Regions from separate parts of the Homo sapiens genome. Here region 1 is linked to region 2. The links come from fine-mapping of genetic effects on gene expression. A gene starts in region 2. The other region holds a variant in brackets. All regions are shown on one strand. Distances are from middle to middle. Region 1 has its middle 5.9 kb from the start of LRRC23. Region 2 holds the start of ATN1 (atrophin 1).

What was found. PIP is the estimated chance that this variant, and not a neighbour inherited with it, causes the effect. A credible set is the group of variants that fine-mapping cannot tell apart.
Region 1: its variant is the best candidate, but not a certain one, in a credible set for the expression of ATN1 in whole blood (Lepik 2017, PIP 0.72).

Annotation. Positions count from the first base shown.
Region 1 is chr12:6,896,200-6,901,569 of GRCh38, forward strand. No RefSeq gene overlaps it. Among named protein-coding and RNA genes, the nearest start is that of LRRC23, 5.9 kb to the right of the region's middle. The variant T/C (reference allele first, on the strand shown) is at 2,915.
Region 2 is chr12:6,924,656-6,930,025 of GRCh38, forward strand. ATN1 (atrophin 1) reads left to right here and starts at 3,304. Exons shown (of 10, transcript NM_001940.4): 1 at 3,304-3,729. LOC124902868 (a long non-coding RNA gene) reads right to left here and starts at 3,041. Exons shown (of 2, transcript XR_007063194.1): 1 at 2,872-3,041; 2 at 1-1,470. RefSeq lists enhancers at 1-488, 1,189-1,888 and silencers at 2,913-2,962, 3,143-3,302.

The DNA.
Region 1 (5,370 bases), 28 kb before region 2:
ACTCTGTCTTAAAAAACAAAAAAGACCCTGTCTCAAAAAAAAAAAGAAATAATAAGGTGGCAGGATATATGATATATAGAGAAAAATCAATACTAAAATCAATAGTTATGACAGTATGACATTGGAGCAGCAGTAGACATAGAGATCAATGGAAGATAATAGGGTCCAGGAATAAAACCCATATATATGATAAAGATGGCATTTCAAGTCAGTAGAGAAGAATGGGATTAATCAATAAATGATGTAGAAAAAAATTGGCTCCCCTTTTGGCTCCCCTACCTCACACTATATACCAACCTATTCTAGATGTAATAAAGACCGAAAAATATTTAAATACCATCAAAATAGTCAAGAGAATATTTTCATAACCTTAGGGGTGAAAAAGGCTTTTCTGAACCAGACCCACAGTTCAGAAGCCTTATGCAAGAGACTGGCAGTTGGGACTACACACAAATGTCAAATTTCTGTAAGGTGACACTCTATAAGCAAAGTGAAATGACAAAGTAGGAAAATATTTTCAAAATGTATAAGAGACAAGAAGTTAATGTGTCTGTGTGGTGGTTTAAAAATATGTCCATGAATTCTGTGATACTCTTCCTTTTAAGAGGTGAGCCTTATTCCCCTCCACTTGAGTGTGGGCTGGACTTAGTGACTGGCGTCTAAAGAATAGCATAAAGTGGAAGTGATGGTGTGTGACTTTGGAGACTCAGTTAAAGGCAGAGTGGCTTTCATCTTGGTCTCTTTCTCTCTTGGATCACTTGCTCTGGGGGAAGCCAGCTGCCATGTTATGAGGGCACTCAGGCCCTGTGGAGAAGTCCAGATGGTAAGGAACTGTCTTGCCAACAACCATGTGAGTAAGCCATCTTGGAAGCAAATCCTTCAGCCCCAGCCAAGCCTTCAGATAACGGCAGCTCCAGCCAGCCGTTTGACTGGAACCCACCTGGGCCACTCTTGGATTCCTGAGAAACTGAGATAATACATTTTGCTGTTTTAAGCTGCTACGTTTTGAGATGATTTGTTATACAGCTATAATCAGTTAACAGTTGCACTTGGCTGGCTGGGCATGGTGGCTCATGCCTGTAACCCCAGCACTTTGGGAGGCCAAGGCAGGAGAATCGCTTGAGCCCAGGAGTTCCAGACCAGTCTCTGCAACATAGTGAGACTCCATCTTTACAAAAAAAAAGTTAAAAATTAGCTGGGCATGGTGGGGCGCACCTGCAGTCCCAGCTACTTAGGAGGCTGAAGTGGGAGGGTGGCACGTGCTTGTAATTCCAGCTACTCGGGAGGCTAAGGCACTAGAATCGCTTGAACCCAGGAAGCAGAGGTTGCAGTGAGCCGAGATCTTGCCATTTCACTCCAGCCTGGGTGACAGAGCAAGACTCCATCTCAAAAAAAAAAAAAAAAATCACCCTGTTAAGTATAAGCTCTGACAAATGCATAGTCCTATCATAATCAAGACATAGAACAATCGTAGAATCACTCTAACAGTTCCCTCAAGATCAAGATCAAGAAGTCAACCCCTTCTTGATCCCAAGGAACTCATTGACCTGTTTTTCTGTCAAAAGGGTCAAATTTAATCACTAAAATGATCTACAGTACTATGGAAAAATTTGTAAGCATAGAAAACACACAAACCAACTCTTTTTAAAAAGTAAGATATTTTAAAAGTTTACCATACCAACAGAATGAAGATAGCTTCACATTTTACTACAGATGTGCAGATATTCATCAAAGTCCACCATTGTCATATATATGGCTCAACAGTAATATTTAAGAATATACTGGCCAGGGCCGGGAGTGGTGGCTCACGCCTGTAATCCCAGCACTTTGGGAGGCTGAGGCGGGCGGATCATGAGGTCAGGAGATTGAGACCATCCTGGCCAACATGGTGAAATCCCATCTCTACTAAAAATAGAAAAATTAGCTGGGTGTGGTGGTGCGTGCCTGTAATCCCAGCTACTCAGGAGGCGGAGGCAGGAGAATCACTTGAACCAGGGAGTCGGAGGTTGTGGTGAGCCGAGATCACTCCACTGCACTCCAGCCTGGTGACAGAGCGAGACTCTGTCTCAAAAAGAAAAAGAAAAAATACTGGCCAGGCACGGTGGCTCATGCCTGTAATCCCAGCACTTTGGGAGGCTGAGGCGGGTGGATCACCTGAGGTCAGGAGTTCGAGACCAGCCTGGCCAACATGGTGAAACTCCATCTCTACTAAAAATACAAAAATCAACCAGGTGTGGCGTCACACACCTCTAATCCCAACTACTCGGGAGGCTGAGGCAGGAGAATCATTTGAACCCAGGAGGCGGAGGTTGCAGTGAGCTGAGATTGTGCCATTGCACTCCAGCCTGGGTGACAAGAGAGAAACTCTGTCTCAAAAAAAAAAAAAAAAAATACTGTAAAATAACAATCTTTAGAAGAGTTAGAATAATGTTATTTTTGTTTGTTTTTTTCGAGACAGGGTCTTGCTCTGTCATCCAGGCTGGAGTGCAGTGACGTAATCTTGGCTCACTGCAACCCCTGTCTCTCAGGTTCAAGAGATTCTTGTACATTAGCCACCCAAGTAGCTGGGATTACAGGTGTGTGCCACCATGCCAGCTAATTTATTTGTATTTATTTATTTATTTATTTATTTATTGAGACAGAGTCTTACTCTGTCACCCAGGCTGGAGTGCAGTGGCGTGATCTCAGCTTACTGCAATCTCTGCCTCCTGGGTTCAAGCGATTATCCTGCCTCAGCCTCCCAGTAGCTGGAATTACAGGCATGTGCCACCACCACACCCGGCTATTTTTTTTTTTTGGGGGGGGGGGTAGATATGGGGTTTTGCCATGTTGGCCAGGCTGGTCTCGAACTCCTGACCTCGTGATCTGCCCGCCTCAGCCTCCCCAAGTGCTGGGATTACTGTGTGAGTCACTG[T/C]GCCTGGCCAATTTTTGTATTTTAGTAGAGAAGGGGCTTCACCATTTTGGCCAGGCTGGTCTCAAACTCCTAAACTCAGATGATCAGCCCGCCTCAGCCTTACAAAGTGCTGGGATTACAGGCGTGAGCCACTGTACCCAGCCCTCAAAAGCTATTTTTTGACATATTAAGATTGGCAAAGTACGTACCATTTGACCCAGAAATTCTACCTTCTAAGAATGTACGCCGGGCACGGTGGCTCCTGCCTGTCTGTAATCCCAGCACTTTGGGAAGCTGAGGCGGGCAGATGGCTTCAGTCCAGGAGTTCAAGACTAGCCTGGGCAATATAGAGAAATACCCGTGTCTACAAAAATTGCAAAAAATTAGCTAGGCATGGTGACATGCGCCTGTAGTCCCAGCTACCTGGGAGGCTGAGTTAGGAGAATCACCTGAGCTTAGGATGTTGGGGCTGCAGTGAGCCATGATGATTGCACCACTGCACTCCAGCCTGGGAAAGAAAAAAAAAAGTTTCCCACATAGTCATATTACTCAATGCGTAGTCCATGAATCAAGAGCATCAGCATCACTTGAGAGGTCTACATTTCAATGAGATCCTCAAGCAATTTCTATACACGTTAACATTTGAGGAATACTGCTACAGAGTACTCATGCAGAAGAGCAAAGATATATCTATGGGGATTTAAACAGCGTTATTTGTAATATGGACAATTTTTAAAAAAAAGTTAATATCCATCAATAGGGAACAGTTAAAAGTCTAGCCAGGCTTGGTGGCACACAGCTGTAGTCCCAGCTACTTGAGATGCTGAGGCAGGTCGATGGCTTGAGCCCAGGAGTTTGAGGCTGTAGTGCACAATGATTGTGGGCAGGAAACAGGACCTCGACTTTGGACCAGATTCAAGACTGGCTGAAACAGGGAAGAGGCACAGAAAGCACTTCTCCGTAAGACACGCCCACCAGCACGACAGTTTACCATTGCCATGGCGACACCCAGAAGTTACTGCCTTTTTCCATAACAACCTGGAAGTTACCACCCCTTTTCTGGAAATTTCTGAATAACCCACTCTTTAATTTGCATGTAATTAAAAGTCAATATAAATGTGACTGCAGAAGTTTCCCTGAGTTGCTGCTCTCCACACACTGCCTAGAGGGTGGCCTTGCTCGGTAGGAGCAGTCATGGGGCTGTAAAACTGCATCCTCAATAAAGCTGTATCTTCTACCACATGCTCAGGAAAGAACCATGAGCCTTATTGGGCTAATCGCCAATTTGGGTGTTCACCTGCCCTGCATCAGTTGTGCCTGTGAAAAACTACTGCACTCCAGCTGTGACCGGTTGAGGGTAATTGTCCAGGTTCTTGGTGTTTTGCACAAAGAATTCGACAAAACACACAAACAAAGCAAGGCAATGAAAGCAGAGATTTTTTTTGTTTGTTTTTTTAATTACCGTGCCCGCGAGACGGAGTCTTGCTGTGTCGCCCAGGCTGGAGTGCAGTGGCACGATCTCGGCTCCTGGGTTCAAGCAATTCTCCTGCCTCAGCCTCCTGAGTAGCTGGGATTACAGGCTTGCACCACCACGCCCCGCTAATTTTTGTATTCTTAGTAGAGATGGGGTTTCACCATGTTGGCCAGGCTGATCTCCAACTCTTGACCTCTTGATCCACCAAAAGCAGAGATTTATTTTAAAGGAAAGTACAGTCCACAGAGTGGGAGCAAGCTCCAGCAAGTGGCTCAAGAGCATTGGTGACAGAATTTTCTGGGGTTTAAATACAATCTAGAGGTTTCCCATTGGTTCACCCTATGCAAATGAAGTAGTGGCCGACTGCCAGTCTAATTGTGGGAGGGGACCAATCAAAATGAAGAGAGTAGGCCTGCTATCAGTCTGACTGGTTGTGAGAGGGGACCAATCAGACGTACTTTCATTTTTCAAATGCCATACAGAGAAAGGAGGGTTTGAAAAGGGAGTACTCTCTGATATTCAGTCAGCATGATTCGGCCTTAGATTCCCTGCCTCCGGACCCTATTCTCCTGCCTCTCAGCCTGGACAATGTAGTGAGACTCTGTCTCTAGAAAAACACAAGAAAGTTCCGGGCGCGGTGGCTCACGCCTGTAATCCCAGCACTTTGGGAGGCCGAGGAGGGCAGATCACGAGGTCAGGAGATCGAGACGATCCTGGCTAACACAGTGAAACCCCGTCTCTACTAAAAATACAAAAAATTAGCCAGGTGTGGTGGTGGGCGCCTGTAGTCCCAGCTACTCTGGAGGCTGAGGCAGGAGAATGGCGTGAACCCGGGAGGTAGAGCTTGCAGTGAGCCGAGATCACGCCACTGCACTCCAGCCTGGGAGAGAGAGCCAGACTCCATCTCAAAAAAAAAAAAAACAACACCAAAAAAAAAAAAAAAAAAAGGAAAAACGCAAGAAAGAAAGGAAAGTGGTAGTATATCCACATAATGGAAGACTAG
Region 2 (5,370 bases):
GCCATTTTCAGTTCAAAGAGCCTCATGCCCCCTTTCCATTTCTGTGCCTTTTAGTTTCAGTGTGGGCATCTCATCTTTCCCTTTTCTCCTGGCGACCCTTTATGCCTCCCTTGGGGTTTCCTGTACTTTCCTCTGTGCCTCTCAGTTTTCTCTGGGGTCCCTGATACCCATCTTACCTTAGTAACTCCCAGACTGACCAGGACTATCCTAGTTTGAGCCTAGTTCCTAGCCTCTGTCCTTTCTTTCATCCCTCCTCACCAGGTCGCCTTCTCTGACAGTCTGGCCCCCCAACCCCCAAAGTATCGGGGTTGGATTGGGTTACAGCTAGCTCTGCCTGGGCCTCCCAGGCCCTTCTCTCCACTTTCCCTTTGTGCCGTTGCCTGGAGACCAATGGGTTGTGGGGGGCTGAGCCAGAGAGGGAGCTGGGGTGAGGGATGGCTGGGGCTGTGTGTGTGCGTGTGCGTGTGTGTGTGTGTGTGTGTGTGTGAGAGAGAGAGAGAGAGATGTCCCCTGCAGCTGGACTATAAGCCTGGCCCTCAGGTAGGGGAGGAATGGGAGAGGGTAGACAATGGTTTCTTTTGTGACTCTCACCATCCCCTATCCCCACATATGCCTAAATTTTTCTTTTAGTATCCATTGTAGCCCATTCCTTAGTGATTAAAAAACAAGGGAGAAGAGCTCAGCCTGGAAGGGATTTGGAAAGGGCTTGAGCCAAGGCCCAGTGGGAGACTGAACTGAGTGGTACAGAAAGAGAGGAAATGCCATGGGGAGAGAGGGTGAGAGGGAAAGGGGGAGCCCTGGAACAAAGTCAGGGGTGGGGAGGAGCAGCAGCTACCCTAGAGCAAGAGGAAGGGAGTCGGGGTGCACAGGGAGACAGGGAGCTGGCCTGGTCTCAGGGAGGCCCTGGGAGGAAGGTGTGCTTGGAGTGGTAAAGTGAGTGCCAACCAATTCAAGGGACTTCAGAGTGATGACTCATTCCCAGGCCAAGGAAGTGTTCCTGTTCCTGCGCCCAGTTCCCCAGTGCTCTGGAATCTTGTTTAGAGCTTTTGAGTATTCCCAGAACTTTGTTGAATCTGGCCCAAGGAATTGTGAGACAAAAATCTACTGAGCTGCTCCAGAGCTAACCTCCTTCCTTCCCTGAAGGCAGGTGGGATCTTGCCAATTCAGGGCCCACCCTTAGCCTCCAGCAAGACTGGCCCCACAAGTACCCGACCCCCACCCCAAATCTGGAGCTCTACTGAGGGCTCCTAATCCACACTCCAGCTCCAGCTCTTCCGGCTTGCCAGCCTGCCTCCCTCCCATTCTCTGGCCTTCCCAATTTCTGCTGCCAAAAATCACCCTGTGTCCTTTGTCCTGGGAGATGTTGCCGCTTGGTGGAGGGCCAGGAGGGAGCCCAGGAGAAGGAACTGGTGGTGGGCTGGCGGAGGTGCTGGCTTCACGGCCGGGAGCAGACTGACTGCCAGAGGCTACCTGGAGAGCAGGGGAGGGAGAGGAAGGGTTGGGAGGAGCCTGCAGTCTGTGGTGGGGACTGTCTCCACCTTAGAACAAGTGGGATTGAGCAACAAGGATACCCAGGGATTTGGGTCCACATTAAGCCCAGTCTTCACCCGACTGCTTCCCTGTGACCCAGGGGATCTTTAGTGATGACTTTCAACAGATTTGAGAAGGAAAATGGAGATGCCACTAGATGGAAGGCCTGAGGATGGTGTCTCACTCCTCCAAGCTGTATCCCTTACCTATCTACCCATGAGCTTGCCAGCAACCTCCCCCCGCTCCCACATCTGTCATTTCCTTTAACTGCCCTCGTTTCCCATCTCCATTTTTTCTTTTTTTTTTTGAGACGGCGTCTCGCTCTGTCTCCCAGGCTGGAGTGCAGTGGCGCGATCTCTGCTTGCTGAAACCTTTGCCTCCCAGGTTCAAGGATTCTCCTGCCTCAGCCTCTGAGTAGCTGGGATTACAGGCATGCGCCACCACACCCGGCTAATTTTTGTATTTTTAGTAGAGACGGGGTTTCGCCATGTTGGCCAGGCTGGTCTTGAACTCCTGACAAGTGACCCACCCGACTCAGCCTCCGAAAGTGCTGAGATTACAGGCGTGAGCCCCCGCACCGGCCCCATCTCCATTTTCTTTTCCCATCCATGATCTTTCCTCTTCCATACTGCCGCCAGCCATAGGCCTTGTTCAGCTTACATTTCCTTCCAATCTTCTTATCCCCCTCTTCCCCATTCTGCCCGCCCAAGTAAACCCTCCTCGGCTCTACTGGGAGCCCCCACCCCCAGGATCCAGCCAGCCCGGTGTCTCCCACCCTTCTTTCCCATCCAGAGCCCTCCTTTCTCACCCAGAACCTATTTTCCCTAGAATTGGCACCTGGGCCCACCTCGTTCATCCCTTCTTAAGGTTCCTCACGCGTTCCCTCCTCTCTCTCCTCACTGACGTTTCCTCTGGACTTCTCTCTCTCCAGCATTCCTTCATCCCCCCACCCCCAATTCTTATATTTATGACTCTTTTGTCAACACTAATCACCCCCAAAAGCTTTACTTTTTCCAGAAGCCCCATCTTTCTATATATGTCATCTTTTCAATTTTTCTCTCTCCTTATGACCCCAAACTTCCATCCCATTCTCTCTGATAATAGCCCCCAAACCCGTCTGGCTCCATCTCTGCCACAGATCCCTCACCCCAAGCTTCTCTCACTTCTCACCAGGCACCCACAAAGCCCCCAGGCAGCTCCATCTTTCCAATCCAATCCCATTATCCCAATCTCTACCCCAGGATCCCCCAAACTCCTCCCACTTCACCTCTGCCACAGACCCGCTCGCCCCCAAACTTCAGCCTCCCCTCATCTGCCCTCACCACCCACAGCCCCTCCTACCTAGCCCTCTCCCGCGCCGGGCCCGCGGGCTCCCCACATTCCGCCACGGCTAGCCCTCCCCGCGCCCCGGCCCCCTCGGCCTCGGCCTCGGCCAACTCGCGCTGCGCCTCCCCCTCTCCGGCTCCCCCTCTCTCCCCCCTCGCGGCTTGCCTCGCGCTCCCTCCCTCGCGTCTCCCTCCTGGCCCCTCTCTCCTCCGTTCCTCCGCGCTCCCTCCTTCTCCCTCTTCCTCCCTTCTCCCATCCCCCTCTCCCAGGCTCCCTCCCTTCGCCGTCCGCTTTCCTGTGCGAGTCGCCGGACGCACCGCCCAGCCCGTCCGCAGCCCCGCGCCGGGTCGGGGCCTCGGGCCGGGCCATTTCGGAGGGACCGCGGCTTCGGGGAGGGGCTAGGAGGGGGGAGAGGGAGCCGACTGCCGGGGAAGGGGCGGGGGCCGCGGGCGAGGCGGCCGAGGGGCCCGGGATCGCGCGGGTGCGGGCTGCGCTAGGCGGGCGCGGGCGGCGGCGGGTCGGAACCGCGCCGAGGGCCGGGCGGGCCGCGGGGCCGGGCGGCGCGGCGGGGGCGGGCGGCGCGGCCCGGGGCATTCCGGGCGGCCAGGGGGAGGCGGCGAGCCCGGGGAGGTGGGGAGCAGAGCGGGGATCGGGGTTTGCTCCGGGGGCCGGCGGGCGATTGGGGCCAGGCGGGGAAAAGGGGGGATGGGGGCCGCCCTCCGGGGGGGTCGGGGCCGCCGCCGCCGTCGTCGCGGCGGCGACTGAGGCCGAGAAGAGGAGAGGGGGGCGGGGGAGCTGCCGCCGCCGCCCCCCAGAGGCGCCGGAGCCCGGAATCCCGCTCGGAGCCAGCCAGCCGTCCCGAGCTACCAGCAGGTAAGGTCTGCGGCCGCCTGGGCCCCGGGCCCGCGGGGTTCTGTCCCGCCCGGGCTCCGGCCTGCGGCTCCCCACCCCCACCCCTCCCAGTTCCCCCTCCTGCCGCCGCCGCCTCCATTTGTTATTTTCCCAATCCCGTCCCCCCACTGCGGGCTCTGCCTGGCCTGAGGGCCGGGGGCTCAGGGGGTGGGGCCCGCCGAGGAGAGTCGGGGGCCAGGGTTTCGGGAGGATCGGGAAGGTGGGGAAGGAGGGAGGGTCTCCGGAGGAGGCCTGTGGGGCCAGAGGGTATCCGGGACCCGCAGACTCAAAAGAGGAGGAACATCGAGGCCGGGGTTGGCGGAGGAAAACGGGGGATGCTGTGAGTGGGGTTCCGGGCGAAGGCAGAATGGATAGGAGAGATGGCAGCGAGGTGGGGCATGAAGCCTCCAGGAAAAAGCTCCAAAGGACCAGAACACGGGTTCCGGAGCCTGGGGTTGGGGGCTTTAGGAATAGACGGGAAGTGGGAAACGGGAAAGGGGTGTGGTAGGTGGAAAGAGGGATTGTGGCTGATGAACCTGGGGGAGACGGAGGCTTGGGCAAAGAGAGGTCCATTTTTGAGAAGAGCCGGAGGTTTTCCAGCGTGGAAGAGGGAAGGCCATGTCTTTGTGACGGTTTTCATTCCCCTACTGCAGGTCACCTCTGACCCTGTTTTCCCTATCCCAGACATAGTTATTTCTTGGAGAGGGCACTGGGGCCCAGTAGTGTGGGTTATCCCAAAACTAGTGAGGAGGAAAACAGGAACACAGAAGGGGGAGTTGGGAAGAAAGGGGTTCTGGGAGGATGGAAATGGAGAATTGAGCAACCTTACAGGCACTCCAGGCAAGTTGCGACCTCCACCCTCCACCCTCCAATTTCCGGAGCGTCCGCTGCCCCTGGAGCTGTGATCTATATAGGGAGGCCTTAGTTACTGCTTTGAGCTCAAAGATCTCCCTTTGTGCATGGGCTTATTTTGACTAGGGTAGGTACCTTCAAGCTCCCTTACCTGAGGTGCTATAGGAGGGTAGGAGTTGCTTTGGCAACTGGGGTAGGGGGTAGCTGCCAGATGGACACCTGGGATGGTCTCTTGAGGGGCACCTTTTGCCACTGTGTTGCTATGGTAGTGATCCAGTGGGATGTCAGATTGGTTGGGGGGGCTTCGAATGTTTATTGGACCTCAGCCTGTGGCTGTCCTTGGGACTCTGGGCTGGGTTTTGGAGGTTGTTTCTGGATCTGTTGGTGGTTGGGAGTTTCCCCACGGTGTGCACCCTTTCATGTTGAAGTCTGTTGGAACAGGTAGATACGTTCCTTGCAGATCATAGGTGTTTCTCCAAGTCTCTCCACCTGGGCATGATGGGAGGATGAAAACGCTTCTGTTCAGGTTACACCATCTTTTGGCAGTTGGTTCTGACCTCTACCTCCCTTATTATGTTATTTTTTGTAGAGTTGTCTTTTTGCTTCTTTGCACTTTCTTTCATTTTCTAAAACTTGAATTCCTCTTTGAGCCTCCCTTCTTGAGTAACCCTTTTCCTCTTTCCCTCAACTAACCTTTGGCCTTCTTCCCTGACCTTGTAGAAATGGCTGGGCTCCCAGGCCCATCCCAGGTGAGGGTGGCCCAGGACAGAG